4 linked regions of the Homo sapiens genome follow. The protein of the gene in region 2 interacts with the protein of the main gene of each other region in a biochemical or structural test. Each region holds a gene or a part of one and is shown on either strand. Other genes may lie near its edges.

Region 1 (7,782 bases), on a different chromosome or scaffold from region 2:
GGTGGCTGAGGAGGGAGGATCACCTGAGCCTGGGAGATGGAGGCTGCAGTGAGCCCTGAAGGTGCCACTGTACTCCAGCCTGGGTGACAGAGTGAGAGCCTGTCTCAAAACAACTTGGCTTCTTTTGGTGAAGAGTGGCTGGGGCACCTGTCATGAGAATTCACAAGGCTCCAAATGCCCTACCCTGGTCACAACTACTTATCCAATAGACCTCCAGTTACAGCCTACACTTCCCCTGCCTGGGGTGCCTCCTCTCCTCCAGGGCTGGCCACCCACCAGGCCACCCCAGGCATCAGATCCAGCTCAAAAATTGCCTTCCTGGAGTTTAATGACAACTGCTGGGACCTACCTGGCAGCAGCCTGCAGTACTAGGGGCAAAGGTGGGTGCCTGCTTTGCACCTGCAGCCTCAGAAGTGCAGCTCTCCTCACTGCCCAGGTCAGCAGGACAGCAAGGGGTGGACCCTGCAGCATGCACCATCTTGGTGTGACTGAATAGTCTTGGGTTTCCTGCTCTCAGGCTGGGACACAGGCAAATGGAACCCCATTTCTTTTCTCATAAATCCTGCCATTCTCTAAACACACTGGTGTGGCTTCCTCTCCTGCCTTGTCTCCAGCCCAATCCAAGGCTTGGGGCCCAGAGAATGGGACTATGGAGACCCCCATCCCCCTCCAGATGGTCCTGAAGATCTCCCAAACCTGAAAGTCTGACCGAATCTCTCCCCAGGTGGAGGACCAACTCCTGAGCTTGGCAGTCAGGGAGTGCCAAGCACTGACCCCATCTGACAGTCCAGCTTCATCTCAAGGGAGATACCTCACAGTCTGTGCTCCAACTATCACAAGCCTATAGATCACCTGCTCCCCAACAGTGTTTTACTCTAAGCCTTTGCCCTCAGTCCAGCCAGGTGTGCTATCCTTGCCCCATCCCCAGCCAGTCTAACCACTCAGTCTGCAAGTCACTACTCCCAGGCGAGGCCAGGTGCTCCAAGTTACCCTGCAACACTATTGCTACACTCAGTTTCCCAACTGCTCCTGTATAATCTTGTCTTCTGGACCAGGAACTCCTTAAGGACAAGGTCTAGGCTTCAGGCATCTCACAATAGCCACCAAGGCGCAGGACAGTGTACACAGAGGCAGCAGCAGGGGCGCCAGGATGCTGAGCTCCACCTCTTCTGCTGATGAGGCTCTGCCAAAGGGACAGCTCCCACCTGCTGCCTGCCTGTCCCCTAGCCTGGCAAGCACTCCTCAGTTTGACCTTCCCAAACTCTCTTGTGCCCCAAGAGGTTTTAAGGCTCCTTGAAGGCTGGCCTGGGAACCACACATCTTCTAAAGAAATGGACAAGGTTCTCACTCTCCCCAGCCAAGGACCCAGATCAGGTCTCTGGCCAGCATTCCCCTTTCCTCAAGCTTCCAGTGCCCACCCACTTAAGCCCTGGCCTTCCACCTGCACTGCCTCCAGCCCACAGTGGTCTGACTTCCTCTCTAAGTCTCTTTATTTCCTCCCTCTTTAGGCTGCAGAAGCAGTCATCAGACCGAGGGGCTTTTCCTGGGGATTATGTGAGATGATCTGGGCATCGGTGGCATTCTTGGGCGAGTGGCTGGAGGAAACACACCGGGCCTGGGATTTGAGTTTTTCTGGCCCTGTCAGCTGCTGTGGCATGACAGATTTATACAGCATTTGCAAAAAACCAGCGGCTGCTTTTTCTTTAACAATTTTTCTTAAAAACTCCAGTTCCTATTCTCCAGCTTCTTTGTCCAGTCTCCTCCCCTCTCCTAGCCACCCCCCAGACTCTCCAGATTTGGGGCTGGTGTCATCAATCCAATTTATTAAGTCCTCAATGAGGGGGAGGAAGGGCCACATCTCCCTCTGCAGGCCCTTTGACCATCTTGATGGCTTCTGCTCCTCCCTGTCCCCTCAGCTCTGCCTTGGTTTCCCCACTGACAAAGGGGATCTTCTGCTGTCCTGTGTGCCCTGAAACTAAAACCCAGGGGGAGGCCAGAAATCCTCAGAAGTTTTCCAGCTCCCTGCAAGAATAGCCAAGGACAGAGAAATCACAGGATCAGGACGAGCAGGGCAAGCTGGAGCAGGGGGTAGAACAGACCAAGTCCTTTACCGCAGAGGAAGAAACCACACTGTGGAAGGGAAATAAATAGAGGGGTCCAGGGCAGCAGAGCCCAGGCCCCCAGGGCGCAGTGGCTATAGGCGCAGCAGGCGAGTGGGAGCCCCCGGCCGCTTCAGCCACTGAGGAAGAGACGCTTGTAGGCCTTGTTCATCTGCTCCAAGAAGATGAAGGTGAGGACGGTGTGGGGGCCCAGGCGGGCATAGTACGGCGTGAAGCCCTTCCACAGGCTGAAGAAGCCCTCGTAGCGGACAACTTTGAACAGCACGTCCTAGACACAGACAGGCAGGGCGCTGGGGCTAGGACTCTAGGTCCCCATCCCCCTCACCCAGCTGCCTTCACACCTTTCCCAGGGGATCCGACACCCCCTCCCAGGCCCCCAGAATGGCTTCCTCACCAGCCCGTTCTTGTATTCCGGCTTCCCATCAATCATCCGCATGTTCTGGATTCTGCAGGAGAGGACGCAGGGGCATGAGAGACCGAAAGGGCACCCTCCCACCCACCTCCAGGCCCAGGCTGCACACTCACCGGGTCTTGGCAATGTCCACAGGCATGGAGGCAGCAGTGGTGACAAGACCGCTGATCATGCTGGCACAGAAGTGGCACAAGATGTTGTCAGAGAAGTAGCCTGGGGGAGGTGAGGCGGGGGTGGCAGTCAGCTCAGAGGTGGCTCAGGCCAGGCTGGGAACTAAGGGCCCAGCTCTGGATCTCACCTGAGTCCAGTAAGAACTGCTTGGATTGGGAGTAGGAGGCGAGCTGGGCAGCATTGACGACGACGGCCCGAGCCATGGTAGGGATGCAGCCCTGGAGGGAGGGGAGCGGGGAAGAGTCAGAAACCCCTAAAACCAGACCTCACAGCCCCCAAGTCTCCAGCCCCTCCACTCACCCGCCACAGTGTGAGGACACCCTCTTCCCGGGTGATTCGAATCAGGGCGTTAAACACATTTTTGTAGCCACGGCGCTGGTCAGCTGGAAGCCTGGTGGGAAGGCAGAAAGAGGTCAAGATCAGGATTGCCCACAGGTGCAAAGAAAGGAAGGCCAGAACAGGTAAACACTCTGCTCCAGATCCGGGATAAAAAACTGGTCCTTTCATTCTAGATTCGAGGGAATGGGGCTGGGGTTAGGTTCAGACTTGGAACTCACCGGCCATCGGCAGTCATGCGGATAAGAGCCACTTCGGCTGGTGTTCCCACAAAGGCACCAGTGGCACCTGCGGTCATGCCAATCACAGCCTTCAGCAGAAAGCCAGGGGGAGTACCATCAGCCCCAGTCAGGCGCTCAAACAGCACGGTATAGATGCCAAGGCGGGTAGTGGTGTAGGTGGCCTGACGCAGCAGGCCAGCCGACAGCCTGAGGAGCAGAGGGGTCAGCATATCAGGCCAAGGTCTAGAGCTGCCAACCCACAGTCTACCCTCCATCCTGAGGCCCCAATACCCAGTGTAAATGCCCCTCAGGCCTTCTGCCTTCAGGATACTGGTGAGGGCATGGAAGCTGGTTTTGTACTCTCGAGTCTTGGCCCCTTCCCCGCTCAACTGCATCCGGTTCTTCACCAGGTCCAGGGGCTGGACAAAAACTGTAGCTCCCATCCTGGGGGAAGACAGAGGTGGAGTGAAGGGCCAGGCATTCCAGATCTACCAGTGCCCACTGGAGCCTGGCAGCAAGAGGTTACAAAGGTCAGGGCCTGCCATGCGATTCAAGAATCAGGATGCTGGTGAGCATGTGTATAAGAGTCTATATGTACACCAAGTGCAACGGGTCTGAAAAGTCTAGTTGTCCAGTAGGGGCCATGCAATGAAAGTGCTCCAAGCAGCTTCATGACAGTCAAGCAGTGACCTGGGGCTGCACGCAGTCCGACACAGGGAGGGGAGGAAGGGGCATCCAAGATTTAGGACTCCAGGTAGTCCTGCAGGAGCCATTTAATGGCCTGGAACCCCCTGCCGCCCGGCCGAGCTTAGCAATGCGCTGGGAAACTCAGCTGGCCCGGCGGGGGTTGTGCAACGACCCTGCATGCAGTCCATAAGGGTCCTGCAATGGGGCCCTAGCAGCCCATCGGGGAACTCGCAATACGCTGGAGATCGCGCTGACCCCGTGCCGGCACAGTTCACTGCAACAGACCCAGAGATGAACCGGGCCCGGTTCCTTTTGCCCTTCCCTTCCTCCTCTTTTCCCATCCCTGGGGCCTGAGCTTACCCGGCCAGGCCCCCAAACAGGAACTTGACGGACTTAGGGGAGGTACGGGGCTTCCCGTCTATCCCGCCGGCCCCGGCACTCGCCGTCGCCGCCATCGCCACTCAATGGCCCTCGGCTCCGGGTCCCGTGCGCGCGCGGCCCCGCTCGCGCCCAAGGTGACACCGCGCGCGCAACAGAGCGAGGGCGCGCGCACGCCCCTCCAGCTCTCAGGTCCGACACCCGCTGGAAGCCGGCGCGGGCGCAGGCGCGCAGCGCAAAGGCGGCCGGGAGTAAGGCGGAGCTGAAGGAGGAGCTTGATGGAAGCGTGCGAGAAGGGGCGTAACTGATTTGGAAACCAGAGGAAAGGCGCTGTTTTCACCGAATTAGAATCGCGGGAAAATAGAGAAGAGTTTGTTTGAAGGTCTCGCGAGATCGAGTGAGTACGGCTCGCCAAGTTGGAGCGCTCTCGCGATAGACACAGCAACTATTCAGCTGCGAGGGGACGGGAGAGGTGGTGAGCACTCTCGCGAGATTTGAAGGAGCGGCGGAGGCCAGAGGGAGGAGAGGTTTGTAAACTAGGAGGCTCCGGGTTTCCGGGCACTTTTATTAGGTCGTCTTCTGGGCCACCAGTGCCCCTTCCATCTCCACAGGCAGTCCCTCCATCGCTAACCTTTTTTTAACCGGCCTTTTAGGACCGGAAGTCCTTCATCTCAAGCATCCAATGCTGAAAGCGGCCTGATTTTCTCTACCGGAAGCCCTTTTCCAGAGGCTGGGAACACGGCCCACCTAGCAGGAAGTCCCACCTCCTTGAGCTCCGCCACCCTTCCCGAAGTTTTTCTGTCACCTGTGTTAGGCTCCGTCCCCTTTCCGCGTTTTATCCCCGTACCAGAAAAGGATACATTTAGTGCCTCCCACCCAGCTCCACTAAACGGGTTGGATATCTCATTCTTTGAGTTGGTGTTCCTTCCCCGGCGCCCCCATGTAGCTGGGAAGTGGGACCTGGGGGTGGTTGGACCCCTGGGATCCTAAAGGAGGGGCAGGGAGGGCGCAGAACTCCGCTTCTGCTCCTTGCTACCAGGACGCGCGGCCTCCTCAGCCTCTTTCCTCCCGCTGCCATGCACCCTGCAGCCTTCCCGCTTCCTGTGGTTGTGGCCGCTGTGCTGTGGGGAGCGGCCCCGACCCGGGGGCTCATTCGAGCGGTGAGTCTGAGGGACGGATGGGGAAAGGGCGCTGAAAGGAAGGGTTGCAGGCTGAAGGGGAACATCGCCTTTTTTGTCCGCAGACCTCGGACCACAATGCCAGCATGGACTTTGCAGACCTTCCAGCTCTGTTTGGGGCTACCTTGAGCCAGGAGGGCCTCCAGGTGATTTTCTTTCTTTTCTTTTCCTCCTTCCCTCCCTTCCTTCCTTTTCTGTCTTTTTTCTTTTTTTAGTATTTCGCAAGATCCTCCATCCTAGGCTGGGGTTGGGGAGGTTTGTCCTGGGTGAAACTGGAGGTAGGAAAATGAAGTTAGGAACTGAGCACGTCTAGTGTAGAACCCAGAATCTAGAGGGAGAAGACAGAGTGTCCACCCCTGGAACTCCGAGGTTATCAGGGAGACTGAAAGTGGACGAAGACAGAAGGCAGGATCAACGGTCCTTATCAGGAAGGTCTCAGGTGCTAGTTATTGCTTATATGACTTTGGGCAAGTTAATCTCTCTGAGCCTTAGTTTGTTTTACTGTAAAATGGGATATTAGAAGTTTTCCTAGGGTTATTGTGAAGATCAAAGTAGATACGCAATTTTGGTAGTATTTCATCCCAAAGACTGCCACATAGCAAGAACTCAGTTGGGCCTTAGTAGCAGTCGAGTTGTTTGTGAGATGGGTAATTAGAAAATTGAAGAGGCCGGGCGCGGTGGCTCACATCTGTAATCCCAGTTCAAGACCAGCCTGGCCAACATGGAGAAACCCTATCTCTACTAAAATGGCAAAAATTAGCTGGGCGTGATGGTGCACGCATGTAGTCCCAACTACTTGGGAGGCTGAGGCAGGAGAATCACTTGAAACCGGAAGGTGGAGGTTGCAGTGAGCCGAGATCGCGCCACTGCACTCCAGCCTGGGTGACAAAACGAGACTCCATCTCAAAAAAAAGAAAAACAAAAAGAAAACTGAAGGGAGGGGAGTGTGTCTGTATGAGTATGTGCTGGAGAGGGGACTGTGAAACAGAACTTGAGAGAAAGTGACATGGGTGGTTTGAGAATTGAATTACAATTGGAATATTAGAAGGCAAAAATAATTGCATTAGCTTGCAGTATAGGGTACAGATTAGCCCATCTGGGACAGCGAGAGGGATGATGGGAGAGTTTGGTGAAGGGATGTTTTATGTCATTGCCTTTTCAAGAGGCTAAGAGAAGGTTGTGATGGTGGGATGCTCACTCAGACCCCAGGAAGGAGGAGGAAGTGAGGATAGAGGATGTGCAGCATGTGGGCTGGTGTGTTTGGTGGCCCCTGTAGAGAGCAGAATCTAGAAAGGAGAAATCTCACTGTTGTTTGCTTCCATCCTTCAGGGGTTCCTTGTGGAGGCTCACCCAGACAATGCCTGCAGCCCCATTGCCCCACCACCCCCAGCCCCGGTCAATGGGTCAGTCTTTATTGCGCTGCTTCGAAGATTCGACTGCAACTTTGACCTCAAGGTTGCTGAATGAGGAAGGGGAGCTGGGCAGCTGAGGGTAAAAAAAAGGCACCAGGAATGAAGACAGGTAAGGCCCATGATGGCTCCTTGTCCTCTGCCTTGTCTCCCTAGGTCCTAAATGCCCAGAAGGCTGGATATGGTGCCGCTGTAGTACACAATGTGAATTCCAATGAACTTCTGAACATGGTGTGGAATAGTGGTAAGGCTGGGGGAATCTATACAGCTGGGCTTTCAGTAGGACCCAGAGATGGTGGGAAGGCTGAAGGCCTCAGGAAAAGAAGCCAATCCTTTAGGTGGGGTGGGGCCAAAGTGCAAGATGCCAGGGTTCCCAGAGGATTTGAGTAGAAGGTTGTGAGTCCCCAGAGTAACACCTTGATCCCTGCAGAGGAAATCCAGCAGCAGATCTGGATCCCGTCTGTATTTATTGGGGAGAGAAGCTCCGAGTACCTGCGTGCCCTCTTTGTCTACGAGAAGGGGTAGGACATGTGCCTCCTTCCCATTCTTCCTTCAGCAAGCAGTTCCATGCCAACCTGGAGCCCAGGCCTCCTCATTACCCGAACCATTCAGCCTCCTGTCCTTCCTTCCCTGCCTCTTTGACTTTCTTCCCATTCCTGTCCCCACCTATGGGCTTTGTCCAGAGCCAGTTACTTTGTCCCTCTTTTTTTCTCCCTTTGCCTTTCTCGCCCTGCTGAGACTGGTCATCCTTTTCCCAGGGCTCGGGTGCTTCTGGTTCCAGACAATACCTTCCCCTTGGGCTATTACCTCATCCCTTTCACAGGGATTGTGGGACTGCTGGTTTTGGCCATGGGAGCAGTAATGGTGAGT
Region 2 (7,023 bases):
CAGATCACCTGAGTCCCGGAGTTCGAGACCAGCCTGACTGACCACCATGGAGAAACCCGGTCTCTACTAAAAATACAAAATTAGCTGAGCGTGGTGGTGCATGCCTGTAATCCCAGCTTCTCGGGAGACTGAGGCAGGAGAATCGCTTGAACCCGGGAGGCAGAGGTTGCAATGAGCTGAGATTGTGCCACTGCACTCCAGCCTGGGCAACAAGAGCAAAACTGTCTCAGAAAAAAAAAATTGCAATATTACCAGAATTCCTTTGGGACTGTCTCCTGAAATTTGAGGTCAGTCTTAACTTTCCTCTAGAACTCAGCTCAAGAAGGCTGGGTGAGGTGGCTCATGCCTATAATCCCAGCACTTTGGGAGGCTGAGGCAGGAGGACTGCTTGAAGCCAGGAGTTCAAGACCAACCTGGGCAACACAATGAGACCCCATCTCTACAAAAAATAAAAATTAGCCAGGTGTGGTGGCACACACCTGTAGTCCCAGCTACTCGGGAGGCTGAGGTGGAAGGCCTGCTAGAACCCAGGAGGTCAAGGCTGCAATGAGCTATGATTGTGCCCCTGGGCGACAGAGTGAGACCCCATCTCAAAAAAAAAAAAAAGGCACCTAGCTCAAGAACCTCCCTCATACAGTCATACAGGCCAGGCACGACGGCTCATGCCTGTAATCCCAGCACTTTGAGAAGCCAAGGCAGGCGGATCACCTGAGGTCTGAAGTTCGAGACCAGCCTGGCTAGAAACCCCATCTCTACTAAAAATAGGAAAATTAGCTGGGTATGGTGGCATGCGCCTGTAATCCCAGCTACTGGGTCAAGCAGGAGAACTGCCTGACCTGGGAAGCAGAAGCTGCAGTGAGCCAAGATCATGTCACCGCACTCCAGCCTGGGTGAGAGAGTGAGATTCCATCTCAAACAAAACAAAACAAAAAAACTCCAGGTGGGGTGGCTCACACATGTAAGCCCAGCACTTTGGGAGGCCAAGACAGCCAGATCACCTGAGGTCAGGAGTGTGAGACCAGCCTGGTCAACATGGTGAAATCCAGTCTCTACTAAAAATACAAAAAAAATTAGCCGGGTGTGGTGGCGCATGCCTGTAATTCCAGCCATTCTGGAGGCTGAGGCCTGAGAATCACTTGAAGCCAGGAGGCGGAGGCTGCAGTGAGCCGAGATAAAGCCACTGCACTCCAGGCTGGGTGACAGAGACTCTGACTCAAAACAAAACAAAAACAAAAAAGAACCTCCCTCATTCAAATACCCTCAGAATCCCATAGCATTTACACTTTGCCCCTCCCATTTTTATCTATCCTTTGTCCTGTATCTCCAACCAATTAAGCCTTTTGGGGCTGTGGTCAACATGTTCGGTAACTGTTAATAATGTATTCACTGGGAAATAAGAGTATATAGTCTTGGCTGGGCATTGTGGCTCACACTTGTAATCTTATCACTTTGGGAGACCAGCCTGGCCAACATCATAAAACCCTGTCTCTACTAACAATATAAAAAATTGGCTGGGCGGTGGGGCGCGCCTGTAATCCCAGCTACTTGGTAGGCTGAGGCAGGAGAACCGCTTGACCTGGGAGGTGGTGGCTGCAGTGAGCTTGGATCATGCTACTGGACTCCAGCCAGGGTGACACAGTGAGATTCCATCTGGGAAAAAAAAAAAAAAAAAGTCCAGGCATGCCAGGCATGGTGGCTCACCATTTAAGCCAAGCACTTTGGGAGGCCCAGGCAGGCAGATCATCTGAGGCCGCGAGTTTAAGACCAGCCTGGCCAATACAATGAAACCCTGTCTCTACTAAAACTACAAAAATTAGCTGGGTATTGTGGCCGGACAGGGTGGTTCACACCTGTAATCCCAGCACTTTGGGAGGCCAAGGCAGGCAGATCACGAGGTCAGGAGATCGAGACCATCCTGACTAACACGGTGAAACCCCGTCTCTACTAAAAAAAAAATACAAAAAATTAGCTGGGAGTGGTCGTGGACGCCTGTAGTCCCAGCTACTCAGGAGGCTGAGGCAGGAGAATGGCATGAACCTGAGAGGCGGAGCTTGCAGTGAGCTGAGATAGCGCCACTGCACTCCAGCCTAGGTGACAGAGCGAGACTCCGTCTCAAAAAAGAAAATTAGCTGGGCATGGTGGCGCATGCCTGTAATCCCGGGATCCCAGCCATTCCAGAGGCTGAGGTATTGGTTGAACCTGGGAGGCGGAGGTTGCAGTGAGCTGAGATCGCGCCACTGCACTCCAGCCTGGGTGACAAAGCGAGACTCCGTCTCAAAAAAAAAAATTAGCTGGGCGTGGTGGCGCATGCCTGTAATCCCGGGATCCCAGCCATTCCAGAGGCTGAGGTATTGGTTGAACCTGGGAGGCGGAGGTTGCAGTGAGCTGAGATGGAGCCACTGCACTCCAGGCTGGGTGATAGAGCCGAGACTCTGTCACAAAAACAAAACAAAACAACAACAAAAAGGAATCTCTCTCATGCAGATACCCTTTAGAATCCCATAGCATTTACTCTTTGCCCCCACCATTTTTATCTATCCTTTGTCTGCCCTGTATCTCTAACCAGTTAAGCCTTTTGGGGCTATAGTCAATATTTTCAATAACTGTCAATAATGTATTCACGGGAAATAAGAGTATATAGTCTTGGCTGGGCACGGTGGCTCACGCCTGTAATCCCAGCACTTTGGGAGGCCAAGGCAGTTGGATCACTTGAGGTCAGGGGTTCGAGACCAGCCTGGCCAACATGGTAAAACCCTGTCTCTACTAACAATACAAAATATTAGCTGGGCGTGGTGGGGTGCGCCTGTAATACCAGCTACTCAGGAGGCTGAGGCACGAGAGTCGCTTGAACCCGGGAGGCAGAGGCTGTGGTGAGTTGAGATCGTGCCACCATACTCCAGCCTGGACAACAGAGCAAGACTCTGTCTCCCAAAAAAAAAAAAAAAAAAACCCAGGTGCAGTGGCTCATGCCTGCAATCCCAGCACTTTGGGAGGCCGAGGCGGCAGATCACAAGGTCAGGAGCTCGAGACCAGCCTGGCCAATACGGTAAAAACCCGTCTCTACTAAAAATACAAAAACAAAAACAAAAAAAAACAAAAAAAAACATTAGCCATGCATGCTGGCACATGCCTGTAATCCCAGCTACTCAGGAGGCTGAGACAGGAGAATTGCTTGAACCCGGGAGGCGGAGGTTGCGGTGAGCCGAGATGGCGCATTGCACTCCAGCCTGGGCGACAGAGGGAGACTCCGTCTAAAAAAAAAAAAAAAAAAAAAGGTGTATAGTCTTTAAGAAGGGGTGACAGGCCAAGCATGGTGGCTCACGTCTGTAATCCCAGCACTTCAGGTGGCCAAGGCCGGAGGATCACTTCAGTCCAGGAGTTCGAGACCAGCCTGGGCAACATGGTGAAACCCCGTCTCTACAAAAAATTACATAAATTAGCTGGGCATGGTGGCAGACGCCTTTAGTCCCTGCTACTTGGAAGGCTGAGGTAGGAGGATCATCTAAGCCTGGGGAGTTCAAGGCTGCAGTGAACTGTGATCACGCCACTGCATTCTAGCTTTGGTGACAGTGAGACTCTGTTTCAAAAATAAATAAATAAAAAGGGAAGAAGCTAGGGAGCCCAGATGTGTCTAAACCTACGCCCAATGGACAGAGCTCAAAGTCTTTGTAACACTGTATACAAGGAATTCACCCCAAACATATTACCTGCACAGACTTTGATTTTTTTTAACCCAATCTATAGGCTTTCCTTGCTCAACCCATTCCAGAAACCATAAGAAATACTATTTAAATATTACATAAAACTGTAACTTACATAACTTTCAAACACACTTTTGAAAAAATAAAATAAAAATAAAAACTTTAAAAACCACTTTTTTACTATTTGGAGACAGTGTGTTGCTCTGTCACCCAGGCTGGAGTGCAGTGGCACAATCACCGCTCACTGCAGCCTCGACCTCCCAGACTCAAACGATTCTCCTGCCTCAGCCTCCCCAAGTGCTGCAATTACCGATGTGAGCCACCACGCCTGCCTCTAGTCTTAGAAACAACTGTTCAAATTCTCGTTACATTCATTTTTGGTAGAAAATTTTACCTTTTTATTAAAATCAAAAGCGAGAAATTTTAAAAGAAAAACACTAAAAACGGGAAACAAACTTAAAAGTTTTAAAAATAAAACATTCAAAGCCAGTATATATTTTTTGTCTTTACTGTCTGTGTCCATTTATTCTTTAGATAAATTATCTTACACATCTGATACAGTTAAGTCTCAAAGTATTCTTTTTTTTTTTTTTTTTTTGAGATGGAGTCTCGCTCTGTCGCCAGGCTGCAGTGCAGTGGTGCCATCTCGCTCACTGCAACCTCCACCTCCCCGGTTCAAGCAATTCTCCTGCCTCAGCCTCCCAAGTAGCTGGGACTACAGGCACTCACCACCATGCCCGGCTAATTTTTGTATTTTTAGTAGAGACGGGGTTTCATCATGTTGGCCAGGATGGTCTCGATCTCCTGACCTCGTGATCCACCTGCCTAGGCCTCCCAAAGTGCTGGGATTACAGGCGTGAGCCACCACGCCTGGCTGTGTTCTTCTTATATAGTTAATAAATAGCCAGGAATCATTTTCTTTTTTCATTTATGAGACAGGGTCTCGCTGATGCCCAGGCTAAAGTGCGGTCACATGATCACAATTCACTGCAGCCTTGACCTCATGGGCTCAAGCATCCTCCAGCCTCGGCCTCCCGAGTAGCTGCCACTATAGGCACATACCACCAGGCCTGGCTGATTTTTTTTAAATGTTAGTAGTAACAAACTCTCACTATGTTGCCCAGGCTGGTCTTGAACTCCTGGCCTCAATCGAGTCTCAGCCTCCTAAAATGCTAGATTACAGGCATAAGCCACCCCACCTGGCCATAAACACTCTTTTAAAGAGTTTTGTCAGGCCAGCCTGGCCAACATGGTGAAACCCCCGTCTCTACTAAAAATAAAAACATTAACCGGGCATGGTAGTAGGCGCCTGTAATCCAAGCTACTCGGGAGGCTGAGGCAGAATGGCTTGCAACCAGGAGGTGGAGGTTGCAGTGAGCTGAGATCGTGCCACTGCACTCCAGCCTGGGTGACTGAGCAAGACTCTGTATCAAAAAAAAAAGTTTTGTCTACATAGTTCTCAACATATGGCAGTCTGGGGACATTTTTAGTTGATGCATCCAGCAAGAAGAGATAGTGGGGACATGCGCTGGGGCTCTGCAGTGCTACCTGCATATACTGGTAGAGGTCAGGGATGTTGCTAAACATCCCACAATGCACAGGAGAGCCACTCAACAAAGAACTATCTGCCCAAAATGTCAGTAGTGCCAAGGTTAAAAAATCCATGGTCTACAGAAATCAAAAGACTTACTTTTAGAGATTTACAACTACTTCTATTACAGAATAATCTAGATCAAGCTAGATCAAGTACATTAAAATTTTAAAGGAAAATAGACACAAAAATCTATTTAAATGATGAGGGAAAACTTAATGTACTATATAGTAATTTTCACGAAACCAATTTGTTTATGCCATAGATTTAAACACGCCCTATGAGACTAGAAAATGTTGGCCAGGTGCAGTAGCTCACTCCTGTAATCCCAGCAATTTGGGAAGTCGAGGCGGGTGGATCACCTGAGGTCGGGAGTTCAAGACCAGCCTGACCAACATGGAGAAACCTCGCCTCTACTTAAAATACAAAATTAGCCAGCCATGGTGGTGCATGCCTATAATCCCAGCTACTCAGGAGGCCGAGGCAGGAGAATTGCTTGAATCCAGGAGGCGGAGGTTGGGGTGAGCCAAGATCGCGCCATTGCACTCCAGCCTGGGCAACAAAAGCAAAACTCCGTCTCAAAAAAAAAAAAAAAAAAAAAAAAAAAAAAAAAAAAAAAAGAAAAGAAAAGAAAAGAAAAGAAAATGTTACCAAAGTGCAATTACAACATGAAAAACCAACAGGTGCCATATAGCATAAGACCAACAAGAGAGTGCACTGATTTAAGGGTGTTTTATTTCATTAAGTTTCAAATTTTAAAATATTTGGTATATTGAAATTCAAGTAAATCTGGCTGGGTGTGGTGGCTCATGCCTGTAACCCCAGCACTTTGGGAGGTTGAGGCAGGCGGATCACTTGAAGTTAGGAGTTCAAGACCAGCCTGGCCAACATGGTGAAACGTCGTCTCTACTAAAAATACAAAAATTAGCTGGGCGTGGTGGCGGGCACCTGTAATCCCAGCTACTCAGGAGGCTAAGGCGGCAGAATCTCTAGAACCTGGGAGGCAGAGGTTGTGGTGAGCTGAGATCGCACCACTGCACTCCAGTCTGGGCGAGACAGCGAGATTCCTTCTTAAAAGAAAAAAAAAAAAACATGAAAGAAAGAAATTCAAGTACATCTTAAAGTTAATTATAGGTAACACTTATTTCAATGAGTTTAAACTAGCAAATTAAACTGTGTTTAAATCCTTTAACCAGTAATACAAACCAGGCTCGATTTTTTAAATTAATTAAAAGCATGCCTATCCTTAGCAAGTCATGACAGCGTGGGACAATATGAACACAAGCAGACCTAGATCCAAATCCCAGGCTCTGTGATTGCAGACAAATAATTTAACTTCTCTAAATCTCTATTTTCTCATCTAGGAAATAGGACATCTAAAGAACTGTGCTTAAGAATTAGCAATAACGTAAAAACAAATGATACTAAGAACAACTAGCCATTCTACAAATGGCAGCTAGTTATTAACAGCAGCAATAACTAATAGTAAATAATAAAACTTATGAATAAAACATTGATTATGGGTTTATATCCTCACAATTAATAATTTACTTATGTAATCCTACTCATAAAATAACTAATTATAAAATGTACTTTACATCAATATTCCATGCCTAACAACTTTGGAATATTATTTAAAACTACTTAAAATTCACACTCATATTTAAAAACAAACATCTAAAACAAAGAAAATAAATATTAATTAATAAAAAGAAACATCTGACAAATTTC
Region 3 (7,023 bases), on a different chromosome or scaffold from region 2:
ATGTAAACTTATCACAAGAAAATGCCAGGTTTTGTATGTACCATTCACATTTTGGTGATAATTAACTCTCTGTAGAAAATTTTGGAAATCTAATTAATTAGTACCTTCAATACCTTTAGTTGTCTCCCACACACGCGTGTGTGTGTGAAATCTTCTACAATATCTTCCCTTTTTTAGACCATGTTCACTGTCAAAAAGGTGCTTTAAGAGCAGTCTTTGGCTGGGCACGGTGGCTCACACCTGTAATCCCAGCACTTTGGGAGGCCGAGGCAGGCGGATCACGAGGTCAGGAGATCAAGACCATCTTGGCTAACAGGATGGTCTTAAGGGACAGTGAAACCCTGTCTCAACTAAAAATACAAAAAATTAGCTGGGCGTGGTGGCACGCGCCTGTAATCCCAGCTACTCAGGAGGCTAAGGCAGGATAATCACTTGAACCTGGGAGGTAGAGGCTGCAGTGAGCCAAGATTGCATCACTGCACTCCAGCCTGGGCGACAGAGCAAGACTCCATCTCAAAAAAAAAAAAAAAAAAAAAAGTGATCTTTACTGCATGCTTGAAGAACAATCACTACTATACTACCTATACTTCCATCAATACAATATTAGATCATATGATCTCTCACCTATTTTTATCACAGCATAAATACAACCAACATTTGGGGTGGATGCTTATTTCAAAAGCACTCTTTTAAACAAAAAAAGGTTCAGGCCTATACTACTAAATTTCACTTTTATCTTTATGCTACCTAATTTGAACATGTATAGATTATTTTTGGAAGGAATACTTTTGGAGGAAAATATGTGACTAGAATCGTTGACCAAATCTGAATTACCACTCTCTATTCTCTAACAATTTCTAACAAAAGAAAACTGCATACTTGAAACAGATTTTATAATAGTTTATATTTGCACACAAATTCTGCCACATTGTTCAGTACCACCAAAGTAAAATTCTTGAATCTTTCATTGAAAATGAAAAACCCATCTGTCACCTGTTCCCAGTAAAAAACTGATTGTTCTATGAAATCGGCTGTTTTAGTCAGATAGGAACTGAAGTTTGAAAGACAGCCTTTCCAAGTTGCCAGGTCATCAAATAATGACCATTCTAGGAACATGGTAGGACCAAAGACAATGACAAGGCCAAGCAGAAGGATTAGCAAAAATAACTTATAAAAGCTCCAGGGAATCTTGCTAATGAATGTGCCAGTGTCTTGAGGCAAAGAAAGTTTATCCACATCGACTAGTTTTATGTCTTCCCACTGACTGGTATCAAAGTTCTTCATTAAAGGGCTTGCAGGCAAATTAGAGGGAGGTAAAGGAGTTTCCTTGATTACTTTGATTTTCTCTCTAAACTCCTGCATCTGTTGCAGAAATACAATGGGTTCTGACACATCTTTGAAAGCCTCAGCAATGTTAAAGGCCATCCGTTGCTCCTGCAAGATGGTGTTGAGTTTGTTGATCTCTGGGTCATATGCTTGCATAACAGCAAGTTTCATGGTCTCAAAGTCAGACAGAATTTCATTCTTCTTTTGATCCAGTGTGTGTTGTAACTTCTCAAAAAATTCCTTCACTTTATCTGAATCTTTAGTCAGTAACTGTAGGGATTTCCTCTTACTAGTTTCCAAGGTATCCAAGCGAGAAAGAGCATCTCCCCGACGCCAGGTCTCAAAGCTCTGGAAGAGGGACTCAAAGGCATCCCTTTCCTGAGCATAGGCATCTTCAATAGAACAGAAGACATGTTTGGTGTGCTCCCCACGAGTAGCACAGATCCCACAAATCAGCTGCATATCAGTCAGGCAGAAAATGTTGAGAGGCTGCCCCAAGTGTCCTTTGCATACTGGCATTTTGGGAGAGATCTTGATCTTGTTATACTTTTCCACAATACCCTTCAGGGAGTAATTAACCTGCAGGCTATTAATTCCAGTAGCTGAAGTTTCCTTACGGCATGTAGGACACTTGAATGGAGCTGGTCTCCACAAGGAATTCCGCACACTCCCTTCTAAGATACCTTCTAAGCATTTTTTGCAGAAGTTGTGGGAGCAAGGCAAAACCCGTGGATCATCAAACAGACTACAACAAATAGGGCATGTGAGATCTTCTTCAAGCAGCTCCATCACATCCTACCAGAAAAAAAAAAAATTATTTTACTCCAATAACCGTCACCACTAGGACTATGTAATAATTAGAAGAAATCTGCCTTCACGTTAAAATGATTTTTCACTGAAATAACCAGCCAAACAAAGTAGTGAGAAATTTGGTAAGGGAATGCACACCAAAGCAAATTTAATCCACTGAGACTAGAACATGCTCCTTTAATAGTAGGGCATCCTATACACAAGGCCTTTGTGTGGGCTTTCCAACAACAGTCTTTGGCTAAGACAAGACTCAGGACTAGGACAACTGCAAGTTGAGCCAGCAGGACCCAAGCAATTGTTTTAAAACAGAGCTGACTACTGACAAAAACAAGGCTATTCAGTGTCTGTAACAGAATGAGCTCTTTACTCTGGGCCCACAAATATGAAATGGTATGTTATATAAAAGAAAGAAGCACAGAAATATAAATCCAAACATGTACTCTCATGTAGACTTTATTATGAATTGGCATATTTTTGTTTCAAAGGCAAGATTACAATTTTTAAAATCACAGGTAAAAGCACAAGATGAGAGTTGCAATTCACTCTTCTAGGTAGAGAACTAAATGAGGTTTTTTGTTGTTTTTAAACCACCAGAACAGTAACAGAAGCCATTTTGTATTATCTAGAATCATCAATTTTCACAATGTGGTGGGCAGAAACCTGGATGTCCCTCTTTCAGGGCATCTGTGAGATCAAAACTATTTTCGTAATGACACTAAGATGTTACTTGCTTTTTGCACCATGTCAACATTTGTACCAATGGTGTAAAAGCAATGGTGTGTAGACACTGCTGAAGCCTTAGGAGGGATCGAGCAAAGCTGTAAGAAGCGCTGAATTGTATTCTTCATCACCACCCAAATTGGGGTTGGAGTACCGGTTTCACTTAAGAATGTTCTTGATGCAGCAGTAAAAATTATTCATTTTATTAAGTCTTGAGCCTGTGTACAGTTTTTTAATATATTGCGTGACAAAATAGGCAGTACGCACAAAGCACTTCTGCATACCGGCAGATGTTGTCTGGAGAAAAAGCACTTAAGTGAAGAGCGGCAAGTTAAACCAGCTGCTTTTTTTCATGGAACACCATTTTTACCTTCTGAAAGAACAAATGATAAACTATGGCTATTCAGACTTAGCTACCTGACATTTTCTGGGGAAAAAAAATGAGCTTGCTACTTCAAAGAAAACAATTGACAGTATCTCTTGCTAATGAAAAGGCTGGGTTTTATGTAAAAATTAGAATTTTGGAAAACATTTGATATTTATGAGCCTGACAGCTTCCCATTAATTAAAGACTTTTATGATGAGATGGGCAGTGATATTAATGAATGTGAGGATTTTCTGAGGGGAAAGGAGTACTGTATAATGAAATGTGTCAATATTTGGAGATCTGCAAAACACAGTGAATACTATTTCAAGTCACTAATGCATGTTACAAATCAGGCATGGGTAAAAGATCCATTTGAAGTTCACGAAAGACCAACAGGTTCATAAACAATTTCAGATTCCATACTCCAACAAAGAAACTAGCACTTGCTGAGTTTTTGTATAGTATCACAAGAAGATTCAGGCTGGGAGCAGTGGCTCACGCCTGTAATCCTAACACTCTGGAAGGCTGCAGAGAGTGGACCGCTTGACCTCAGGAGTTCACGACCAGTACGGGCAACATAGCAAAACTCCACCTCTACAAAAAAAATACCAAAAAAATTAGCCAGCCATGGTGGCATGCGCCTGTAGTCCCAACTACTCGGGAGGCTGAGGTATGAGAATCCCTTGAGCCCAGGAGGCAGAGGCTGCAGTGAGCCGAGATAGCACCACTGCACTCCAGCCTGGGCAACAGAGAGAGACCTTGCCTCAGGAAAAAAAAAAAAAAAAAAAAAAAGATTAAATTACCTGAAAAGGCTATTTAAATAATATTCCTTCCTTTACCAACTACATATCTGTGTAAGCCTAGATTTTTGTGTATTTCCTTTTCTTTTCTTTTTTTCTTAAGAGATGGGGTGTCTCACTCTGTCACCCAAGCTGGAGTGCACTGGCATGATCATAGCTCACTGCAGCCTTGAAATACTGGGCTCAAGTGAGATCCTCCCAAGTAACTACAGACTGCAGGTGTGCACCACCATGCCTTGCTAATTTTTAGTTTTAGTGTTTTTTGTTGTTGTTGTTTTTTTTTTTTTTTTTTTTTTGAGACGGAGTCTGACTCTGTCACCCAGGCTGGAGTGCAGTGGTGCTATCTTGGCTCACTGCAACCTCCACCTCCCGAGTTCAAGTGATTCTCCTGCCTCAGCCTCCCAAGTAGCTGGGCCTACAGGCACATACCACCACACGCAGGTAATTTTTGTATTTTTAGTAGAAACGGGGTTTCACCACGTTGGCCAGGCTGGTCTTGAACTCCTGACCTCAGGTGATCCATCCGCCTCAGCCTCCCAAAGTGCTGGGATTACAGGCGTGAGCCACCGCGCCTGGCCGTGGATTTTTTTATAGACAGGGTCTCACTATGTTGCCCAGGCAGGTCTAGAAATCCAGCCCTCAGGCAATCGTCCCACCTCCACCTCCCAAAGTGCTGGAATTACAGGCATGAGCCACCACACCCAGCCTTCTTCGTTTATTTCAACCAAAATAATATATTCCAACAGGTTAAATACAGAAGCAGACAAAAGACTCCAGCTGTCTTCTATTAAATAGCCATTCATTACAGGCCTCTATTGCAATGCCATGCTTCTCTTAATTTTGTTTTGGAAAATAGTTATTTTCCTAAATTATTTGTTAACTTGTAATGGGTTTATCATTGTTATTTTACGTGAGTATTTTTTAAAAATTGTTTTAATTTCTAATAGAGTAAATATCGACAGTACAAACATAAAGTTCTTGGGATTCTCTTTTTTTTTTTTTTTTTTTTTTTGAGACAGCTTTTTCACCCAGGCTGGAGTACAGCAGTGCAATCTCAGTCCCCTGCAACTTCTGCCTCTTGGACTCAAGCCATCCTCCTGCCTCAACCTCCAAGTAGCTGGGACTACAGGCACGCACCATCACACTCAGCTAATTTTTTTTTTCTTTGTAGTTTTTTTTTGTAGAGATGAGGTCTCACCATATTGCCTAGGCTAGTCTCAAATTGCTGGGCTCAAGTGATCCTCCCACCTCAGACTGCCAAAACACTGAGATTACAGGCCAGGATTCTCAATTTTTAAGAGTGTAAAAGTGTCCTAAGACCAAAATATTTGAGATCCCTAATACAGGCAATACCATTTCTCAATGCAGGTTTATTATTTTTAATTCTTATTTTGAGAGACAGGGTCTTGCTCTGTTGTCCAGGCTGGACTACAGTGGCCTAATTATAGCTTACTGCAGCCTCAAACTTCTGGGCTCAAGCAATCCTCCTGCCTCAGATTCCTAAGTAGCTAAGACTACAGGCATGCACCACCACGCCTGGCTACTTTTTTTTTTGTAGAGACCAGGTCTTACTAGCTGGCCTCAAGCAATCCTCCTGCCTCAGCCTCGCAAAGCACTGAGATCACAGGTGTGAGCCACTGCATCAGGCCACAAGTTTATTTTAAATATACATTCATCTCTATAGTTGTAAAACCAAAGAGTACTACATATTTCTACATTCAGTTTACTCAGGGATATATGCACATATCACATTATCAACAATATCACATTATCAACAATAACATATGACTTAATCGGTAGGCCATCTATGATAAAAAGTGAATACTTGGCCGGGCACGGGTGGCTCATGCCTGTAATCCCAGCACTTTGGGAGGCCGAGGCAGGCGGATCACGAGGTCAGGAGATCAAGACCATCCTGGCTAACACAGTAAAACCCCGTCTCTACTAAAAATACAAAAAAATTAGCTGGGCGTGGTGGCAGGCACCTGTAGTTCCAGCTACTTGGGAGGCTGAGGCAGGAGAATGGTGTGACCCCAGGAGGCAGAGCTTGCAGTTAGCCGAGACAGCGCCACTGCACTCCAGCCTGGGCAACACAGCAATACTCTGTCTCAAAAAAAAAAAAGCGAATACTTTTTTAACAGTAATTTCAACAGCCATACATGACTGGACTATATCTAGAAGGTAAACAGTATTTAAAGGACAAGCTGAGCTTGCAGGGTTAATTAGTTTATGGCTTTTTTTTTTTTTTTTGAGACTAAGTCTCACTCTTGTCACCCAGGCTGGAGTGCAATGGTGTGATCTTGGCTCACTGCAACCTCCGCCTCCCGGGTTCAAGCAATTCTCCTGCCTCAGCCTCCAGAGTAGCTGGGATTTACAGGCACCTGCCACCACGCCCAGCTAATTTTTGTATTTTTAGTAGAAACGGGGTTTCACCATGTTGGCCAAGCTGGTCTCAAACTCCTGACCCCAGGCAATCCACCCGCCTCCCAAACTGCTGGGATTACAGGGGTGAGCCACCGTGCCTGGCGTTTTTTTTTTTTTTTTGAGACAGAGTCTCACTGTTGCCCAGGCTGGGGTGCAGTGGTGCAATCTCGGCTCACTGCAATCTCTGCTGCCCAGGTTCAAGCAATTCTCCTGCCTCAGCCTCCCGAGTAGCTGGGATTACAGGCACCGGCCACCACGCCCGGCTAATTTTGTTGTATTTTTAATAGACACGGGGTTTCACCATCTTGGACAGGCTGGTCTTGAACTCCTGACCTCATGATCCACCTGCCTCAGCCTCCCAAAGTGCTGGGATTATAGGCGTGAGCCACCACGCTGGGCCCTATTTTTTTGGGTTTTTTTTTTTTTGAGACAGAGTCTCACTTCGTCACCCAGGCTGGAGTGCAGTGGCACAATCTCGGCTCACTGCAACCTCTGCCTCCCGGGTTCAAGCGGTTCCTCTGCCTCAGCCTCCTGAGTAGCTGGGAACTACAGGCGCCCACCACCATGCCCAGCTAA
Region 4 (7,023 bases), on a different chromosome or scaffold from region 2:
AATTTTGTATTTTTAGTAGAGATGGAGTTTCCCCATGTTGCCCAGGATGGTCTCGATCTCTTGACCTCGTGATGTGGCCACCTCAGCCTCCCAAAGTGCTGGGATTACAGGCGTGAGACACCATACCCAGCCCTGATTTTTTTTTTTTTTTTAACTGCAAATGTGTAGTCATGAAGAACATAGTGATTACTAATGCAGTTTGGCCACTGTCTTGATTTGTGCTACAGGGCCATTAGTTTAATGCACCACTGTTTTTTGCACCATCAGTGCAAATGTCAACTGGTGTTCACATCAGTTACATAGAAAATGAGAACTTGGTAATATTCTGAAATAGTTTCAACCTGGTAGACCTCCTGAACACTTGGAAGAGCTACCTCAAGAGTCAACAGACCACACTCTGAGAACCACTACTCTGGATGCACATATAAAATACAGGAGGAAAGAGATACATCTTCAGAGAAAAGACTTGGGTCATAGGAAGATAAGAATGGCAAGGAGCCTTGTTTTTTTTCCCTGTACATTCTTTGTACCTTATAAATTTGGTACACTTTGTATATATTACTTTTCTCTGAAAAAATTAACTTAAAAAAAGACACTTAAACTGACATGAAAACTAAGTAAAAATTAAGCATATTAGTAGAAATATAAGTACACAAGTAAATACAAACAAATATAAGCATACTACTTATAAATATAAAGGTATAGACTACAGAAATAATTTTTGAGAGCTAAAATGTTTCTGTTTAAGCAGTACAACTAGGAGATTAGGAGAGTTGCATAGGAAACCACTGTTTTTCATTGTAAGTCTTTTGAAACTGACTTTTAAAACCGTGTACAGATATTAATTGGTTGAAAATTTAAAATATTCAAAATATTACTTTGAAAAAACACACATTAAGTTAGATTGAATAAGTAAATAAAGCAAATATCCATACACAGGTGAGAAACTGGCTATGAAATATACCAAGATGTAACAGTAACTGCCTGGGTAAAAAAAAAAAAAAAAAAAAAAAAAAAAAGAAAGTACTGATGAGTTTTCAATCACATACAAAAATTCTGTTTCATAATTTTTTAATTTTTTTTTTCTTGAGATGGAGTCTTGCTCTACTGCCCAGGCTGGAGTACAGTGGCATGATCTCGGCTCACTGCAACCTCCACCTCCCAGGTTCAAGCGATTCTCCTGCTCCAGCCACCCAAGTAGCTGGGATTACAGGCATGCACCACCCCACTTGGCTACTTTTTTTTTTTTGCATTTTTCAGTTGAGACAGGGTTTCATCAGGTTGGCCAGGATGATCTTGAACTCCTGGCCTCAAGGGATCCATATGCCTCGGCCTCCCGAAGTGCTGGGATTATAGGTATGAGCTACCGCACCCAGCCCAATTTTTTGAACTCATTTTAAAGTTTCTTAAAAAGCAACAGTTTTCTTCAGATTAGAATGTTTGATGACTTAGTTAAAAATAGTTAAAAGTATAAACTTCAGGTTTTTAATAAACAGTTAAGTGGCTAAACATACACACACAATTTTTTCTCATTTCATATGATCACAATTAAGAACATAACTCATTATGTATTTGAAAAAGAAAAGAAGAAAAAAATTGCTTTATGACAATAAGTTGCTGAGTCTTACGTGATTACTTCATAAAATCTTCAAAGAAATATAAACCTACTATCAAAAATCTAATTTAAATTTAGTTTCCTAGCGATGTCCTGATGCATGAAAAAAAGATTATTCCTGTATATAAATAACACAACAGCAAATTGGATTGCTCACTAAAAGGAACCAGGGTTCCATGGAAAACGGCTCATTCCAAGACTGACAAAGGAAAGAAATAAGATGTGCTTGCAACATCTTGCTGTGCCAGAAAGACAGGAAATACTTAAAAAAAAAAAAAAAAAAAAAAAAGGCCGGGGCACGGCATCTCATGCCTGTAATCCCAGCACTTTGGGAGGCTGAGGCAGGTGGATCACGAGGTCACAAGGTCAGGAGTTCAAGACCAGCCTGTCCAAGATGGTGAAACCCCGTCTCTACTAAAAATACAAAAATTAGCCGGGCATGGTGGCAGGCGCCTATAATCCCAGCTATTTGGGAGGCTGAGGCAGAGAATTGCTTGAACCCGGGAGGCAGAGGTTGCAGTGAGCCAAGATCGCGCCACTGCACTCCAGCCTGGGAGACAAGAGTGAGACTCCGTCAAAAAAAAAAAACAAGAGGTTATGTTAAAAAGACACAGGAGCCCACTTGGAAAGGCTCCTAATGGACAAATCTGGGACAATTTGAACATCAAAATAAAGGTTATAATGGGTTATTTAACCCACTGAATAAAACAGGAAACACACAATTCTGTATTAATCAGATAAAAGAATGTCTCTTCCTTATAAAAGAATGTCCATTAGTGAAGAAAATGGATGAGTTACAAAATAAACACTTTCCAACCATTAGAGTAAAGATCAGTAAAGATCAGCATAGGCAAGAAACATCAATGGATGCTACATGGGCCTTGGGGGATGTGGGGAGTGATGAGGAACAGGATGATCTGATGAGGAGCAGAGTAGCTGCACTATCTCAAAGTTATCCCCACAGATTGCTTATTAGGTGCACTGTTCCACATTACAGGAGACTAAAGAGATATGACAACTAAATGCATTTTGTGATCCTGAACTGGGTCCTATGAGGAAAATGCTGTAAAGGGATAAATGCTATTATCAGGACAATTCGACAAAACTGGAAAATGAGCTGTAGATTAATATTATCAAAGTTTAATTTTCTGAATTTTGTAACTGGTGCAGTGATAACGCAAAAGAATACAATACACAGTGAATATTTAGAAACAAATGGGCATAATGCAATGTAATGGGCATAATGTAAGCAATTTACTTTTAAATGATTCAAGAGAGAATAAGGGGCCAGGCGCAAAGGCTCACCCCAGCACTTTGGGAGGCTGAAGTAGGCTGATCACTTAAAGTCATGGGTTTGAGACCAGCCTGGCCAAGAGGGTGAAACCTCGTCTCTAACTAAAATACAAAAATTAGCTGGACGTGGTGGCGGGCACCTATAATCTCAGCTACTCAGGAGGCTGAGGTAGGAGAATCGCTTGAACCTGGGAGATGGAGGTTACAGTGAGCCGAGATCACACTGCTGCACTCCAGCCTGGGCAACACAGCGAGACTCCACCTCAAAAAAAAAAAAAAAAAAAAAAGAGAGAGAAAATAAGAAAGCAAGAGTGACAACATTAAAAATTGGTGAATCTGAATAATGAGTATTCAAGAGTTCTCAGTACTATTTTTTAAATCTTTCGGTAAGTTTGAAATTATGTCAAAATAAAAATGTAAGTAGCCAGGCGTGGTGGCTCACGCCTGTAATCCCAGCACTTTGGGAGGCCAAGGCGGGAGGATTACTTGAGGTCAGGAGTTCGAGACCAGCCTGGCCAACATAGCGAAACCCCATCTCTACCAAAAATATAAAAAATAACCTGAGCGTGGTAGCGTGCACCTCTAATCCCAGCTACCTGGGAGGGTGAGTCAGGAAAATCACTTGAAGCTGGAAGGTGGAGGTGACAATGAGCCAAGATGGGGCCACTGCACTCCAGCCTGGGCCACAGAGTGAGACTCCATTAAAAAAAAAAAAAAAAAAAAAAAATTTAAGTAACAACAAATTGGGATGTCAAAAGATAGTAAAATAAGTAATTTATTCGAGTGCCCTATAGTACATATGAATAAGGGAAATGACTACAACATTGATTCAGACTTGACACCTAGCCATATATAGAATTTCTTAAATTTTCTATTTGGTAGAAAAGGAAAAATATTTTTTAAGAATCCAATCACATACAAACTAAACTAAGATGCTAATCGTGTATGCCCTCAGGAAAACACAAAAATCTTCTCCATGTTAACACAATCCACACTGCCAAACTCTCCTTTCCACCAGCAAGCCATAAGCCCCTTCAGGCAGGTGTTAAGAGCCTGCCCTTTGTTTTAACTCAAGCACTGGCACAGTGCCTGAAATACAACACTCCTGTTTGTTGAATAAATACTGAACATTTACAAATAGAAACGAAATACTGTATTTTTATCAAAATGAAAAGAAGCGTGGAAGGGAACAGACACTTAAATATGGTACTTTCACAAATTTTGAGATGGAGTCTCACTCTGTTACTCAGGTTGGAGTGCAGTGGTGCAATCTCAGCTCACTGCAACCTCCACCTCCTGGGTTCAAGCAATTCTCCTGTCTCAGCCTCCCAAGCAGCTGGGATTACAGGCACCCACCACCACGCCCAGCTAATTTTTGTATTTACAGTTATATTTTTTTTATTTTTGTGTTTTTAGTAGAGACAAGGTTTCACCATGTTGGCCAGGCTGGTCTCGAACTCCTGATGTCAGGTGATCCACTCGCCTTGGCCTCCCAAAGTTCTGGGATTACAGGTGTGAGCCACTATACCTGGCCACTTTTACTAATTATTTTAAAACATTTTTATTTACAATTGAACATTTTCTTTTTTTTGAGATGGAATCTTGCTCTGTCACCCAGACTGAAGGGCAGTGGCGCAATCTTGGCTCACTGCAACCTCTGCCTCCTGGGTTCAAGTCATTCTCCTGCCTCAACCTCCCAAGTAGCTGGGATTACAAGCACCCGCCACCATGCCCGGCTACTTTTTGTATTTTTTAGTAGAGACAGGGTTTTGCCACGTTGGGCAGGCTGGTCTCAAACTCCTGACCTCAGGTGATCCGCCTGCCTCAGCCTCCCAAAGTGCTAGGATTACTACAGGTGTGCACCACCATGTCCAGCCTAAACATGAATGAACGTTTTCAAAAATATATTATTTTATTTTATTTCATTTACTTATTTATTTTGAGATAGGGTCTGGCTTTGTCACCGAGGCTGGAATGCAGTGGCACAATCTCGGCTCATTGCAACCTCTGCCTCCCGGGCTCAAGCCATCCTCTCACCTCAGCCTCCCGAGTAGCTGGGACTACAGGCATGTGCCATTATGCCTGTCTAATTTTTGTATTTTTTTGGTACAGCCAGAATTTCGTCACATTGCCCAGCCTAGTCTCAAACTCCTGGGCTCAAGCAATCCACCTTCCTCAGCCTCCCAAGGTGCTATGATTACAGGCATGAGCCACTGGGCCCAGCCAAAAAAATATATTTTAAAATATGAACAATTTTCAAACCTCACAAAAGCAGAGAACAATATTATTAATACCCATGTACCCATCACCCCAACCCAACAATTATCCAGATTGTGCCAGACCTGCTTCATCTATCTTATCTCCCTCCACCACATTTTTTGGTTTTTATCTGGTATCTGTTTAAAATAACAGACATTGCTGGGCACGGTGGCCCACGTCTGTAATCCCAGCACTTTGGGAGGCCGAGACGGGCGAATCACCTGAGATCACGAGTTCAAGACCAGCCTGGCTAACATGGTGAAAAACCGTTTCTACTAAAAATACAAAAAGTTAGCAGGCGTGGTGGCGCGCTCCTGTAATCCCAGCTACTCAGGAGACTGACGCAGAAGAATTGCTTGAACCCGGGAGGTGGAGGCTTCAGTGAGCTGAGATCACACCACTGCACTCCAGCTTGGGCAACGAGGGAAACTCCATCTCAAAATAAAATAAAATAAAATAAAATACCAGACATTTGCAAGTTTTCTCCCTCATTCCTCAGTCTCTATCACTAATAAAAAGTGGTCATTTTCTTACATAAACATAATGCCATTATCATCCCTAACAAAGTTACAATAACTCCTTGATATCATCTAATACCCATCCATATTCAGATTTCCCCCAATGTTTCAAAAATGACTTTCTACAATTGGTTTGAGTCAGGGTTTAAACAACACCAACATATTGTATTTGGTTACTACACATAAAATAATTTTAATCTGTCTACATCATCTGACAGCAAATATGAAAAGCTTAACAGACAAACCAAATAATTAATTTACATTTGTAGATTCTCTAGAATCAAACCTCACCTAATGCATTTGCCGCCCCTGCTATCTGTAGCAGTCTTCCTCCAAATCGTCACTATGGCTGATTTTTTCTAGTCATTGAAGTCACAGGTCAAATTACCACCTCTAAAAAGGCCCTCCCTAACCACTCAATCTACAGTAAAACCACTTCCATCCATGCCGTATCACATGGTCCTATTTTCCTCATGGCACTTACCACTACCTGAAACCATTCTGTTTATTATGTTCCCACACACAGAACAGAATGTCAGCTCCATGAAGGCAGAGTGCCTTCACTGAAGACCAGTGACTGTGCCTAGAACATGAGACATTCAATAAATGTATCTACGTAATAATGCAGTACCGCTCTTTAAAATGTAAGCTCAGCTAAGTATTTGGAGGCTTTTTTGTTGTTTTGTTTTTTTTCAAGATGGAGTCTTGCTCTGTCACCCAGGCTGGAGTGCAGATCTCAGCTCAGTGGAACCTCCACCTCCCGGGTTCAAGCAATTCTGCCTTACCCTCTTGAGCAGCCAGGATTACAGGCGCATGCCACCACCATGCCCAGCTAATTTTTGTATTTTTTTTTTAGTACAGACGGGGTTTCACCATGTTGGCCTGGCTGCTCTCGAACCCGACCTCATGATCTACCCGCCTCGGCTTCCCAAAGTGCTGGGATTACAGGTATGAGCAAGCGCACCCAGCCTCAGCTAAGTATTTGTCTTTAAATATTTGTAATTCACTCCTCATGTAATGATATAAATTGAGTACCTGTAGAAACCTGGGCCAGCTGTTACCAAGAATCTGTAGGATGTAGGAAAGAAACAAACAGAGGTATAAGACATTCAAATGTAATTGTGGACTTTTACTGAACAATAATTACAGGTTTCTGAAAGAAAAACAAATTATTCCAGATGATTTTTAAAATGTTACCAGGAGTAATAAAAAATTTCATTTTTAGTACCATCTGAAAGCTATTAAAGCTTCAGTAATTAATATCTACAATGGGACAACAATAGCAATAATATGTGGAACAACAATCATAGTTTTTTTGTTTGTTTGTTTTGAGAAACA

What was found.
Region 1: the proteins of UBE2K (region 2) and RNF167 form a complex in vitro, tested with the Homo sapiens proteins (one study listed by BioGRID).
Region 3: the proteins of UBE2K (region 2) and TRIM13 form a complex in vitro, tested with the Homo sapiens proteins (one study listed by BioGRID).
Region 4: the proteins of UBE2K (region 2) and RNF111 form a complex in vitro, tested with the Homo sapiens proteins (one study listed by BioGRID).

The regions. Positions count from the first base shown.
Region 1 is NC_000017.11:4,935,509-4,943,290, forward strand, and holds the start of RNF167 (E3 ubiquitin-protein ligase RNF167 isoform a precursor), read left to right. Parts: upstream 1-4,759; 5' UTR 4,760-4,852; exon of another isoform or gene 4,853-4,978; 5' UTR 4,979-5,401; coding exon 5,402-5,485; intron 5,486-5,568; coding exon 5,569-5,649; intron 5,650-6,832; coding exon 6,833-6,958; intron 6,959-7,068; coding exon 7,069-7,156; intron 7,157-7,342; coding exon 7,343-7,433; intron 7,434-7,670; coding exon 7,671-7,776; intron 7,777-7,782. Other genes in the region: SLC25A11 (mitochondrial 2-oxoglutarate/malate carrier protein), read right to left, coding at 2,233-2,388, 2,515-2,566, 2,646-2,745, 2,831-2,921, 3,004-3,094, 3,261-3,467, 3,552-3,704, 4,308-4,402.
Region 2 is NC_000004.12:39,701,121-39,708,143, reverse strand, and holds part of UBE2K (ubiquitin-conjugating enzyme E2 K), read right to left. Parts: intron 1-7,023. UniProt on the Homo sapiens protein: Accepts ubiquitin from the E1 complex and catalyzes its covalent attachment to other proteins. In vitro, in the presence or in the absence of BRCA1-BARD1 E3 ubiquitin-protein ligase complex, catalyzes the synthesis of 'Lys-48'-linked polyubiquitin chains.
Region 3 is NC_000013.11:50,007,033-50,014,055, reverse strand, and holds part of TRIM13 (E3 ubiquitin-protein ligase TRIM13), read right to left. Parts: intron 2,122-7,023; coding exon of another isoform or gene 2,116-2,121; coding exon 892-2,115; 3' UTR 1-891. UniProt on the Homo sapiens protein: Endoplasmic reticulum (ER) membrane anchored E3 ligase involved in the retrotranslocation and turnover of membrane and secretory proteins from the ER through a set of processes named ER-associated degradation (ERAD).
Region 4 is NC_000015.10:58,990,646-58,997,668, reverse strand, and holds part of RNF111 (E3 ubiquitin-protein ligase Arkadia), read right to left. Parts: intron 6,754-7,023; exon of another isoform or gene 6,721-6,753; intron 1-6,720. UniProt on the Homo sapiens protein: E3 ubiquitin-protein ligase. Required for mesoderm patterning during embryonic development. Acts as an enhancer of the transcriptional responses of the SMAD2/SMAD3 effectors, which are activated downstream of BMP.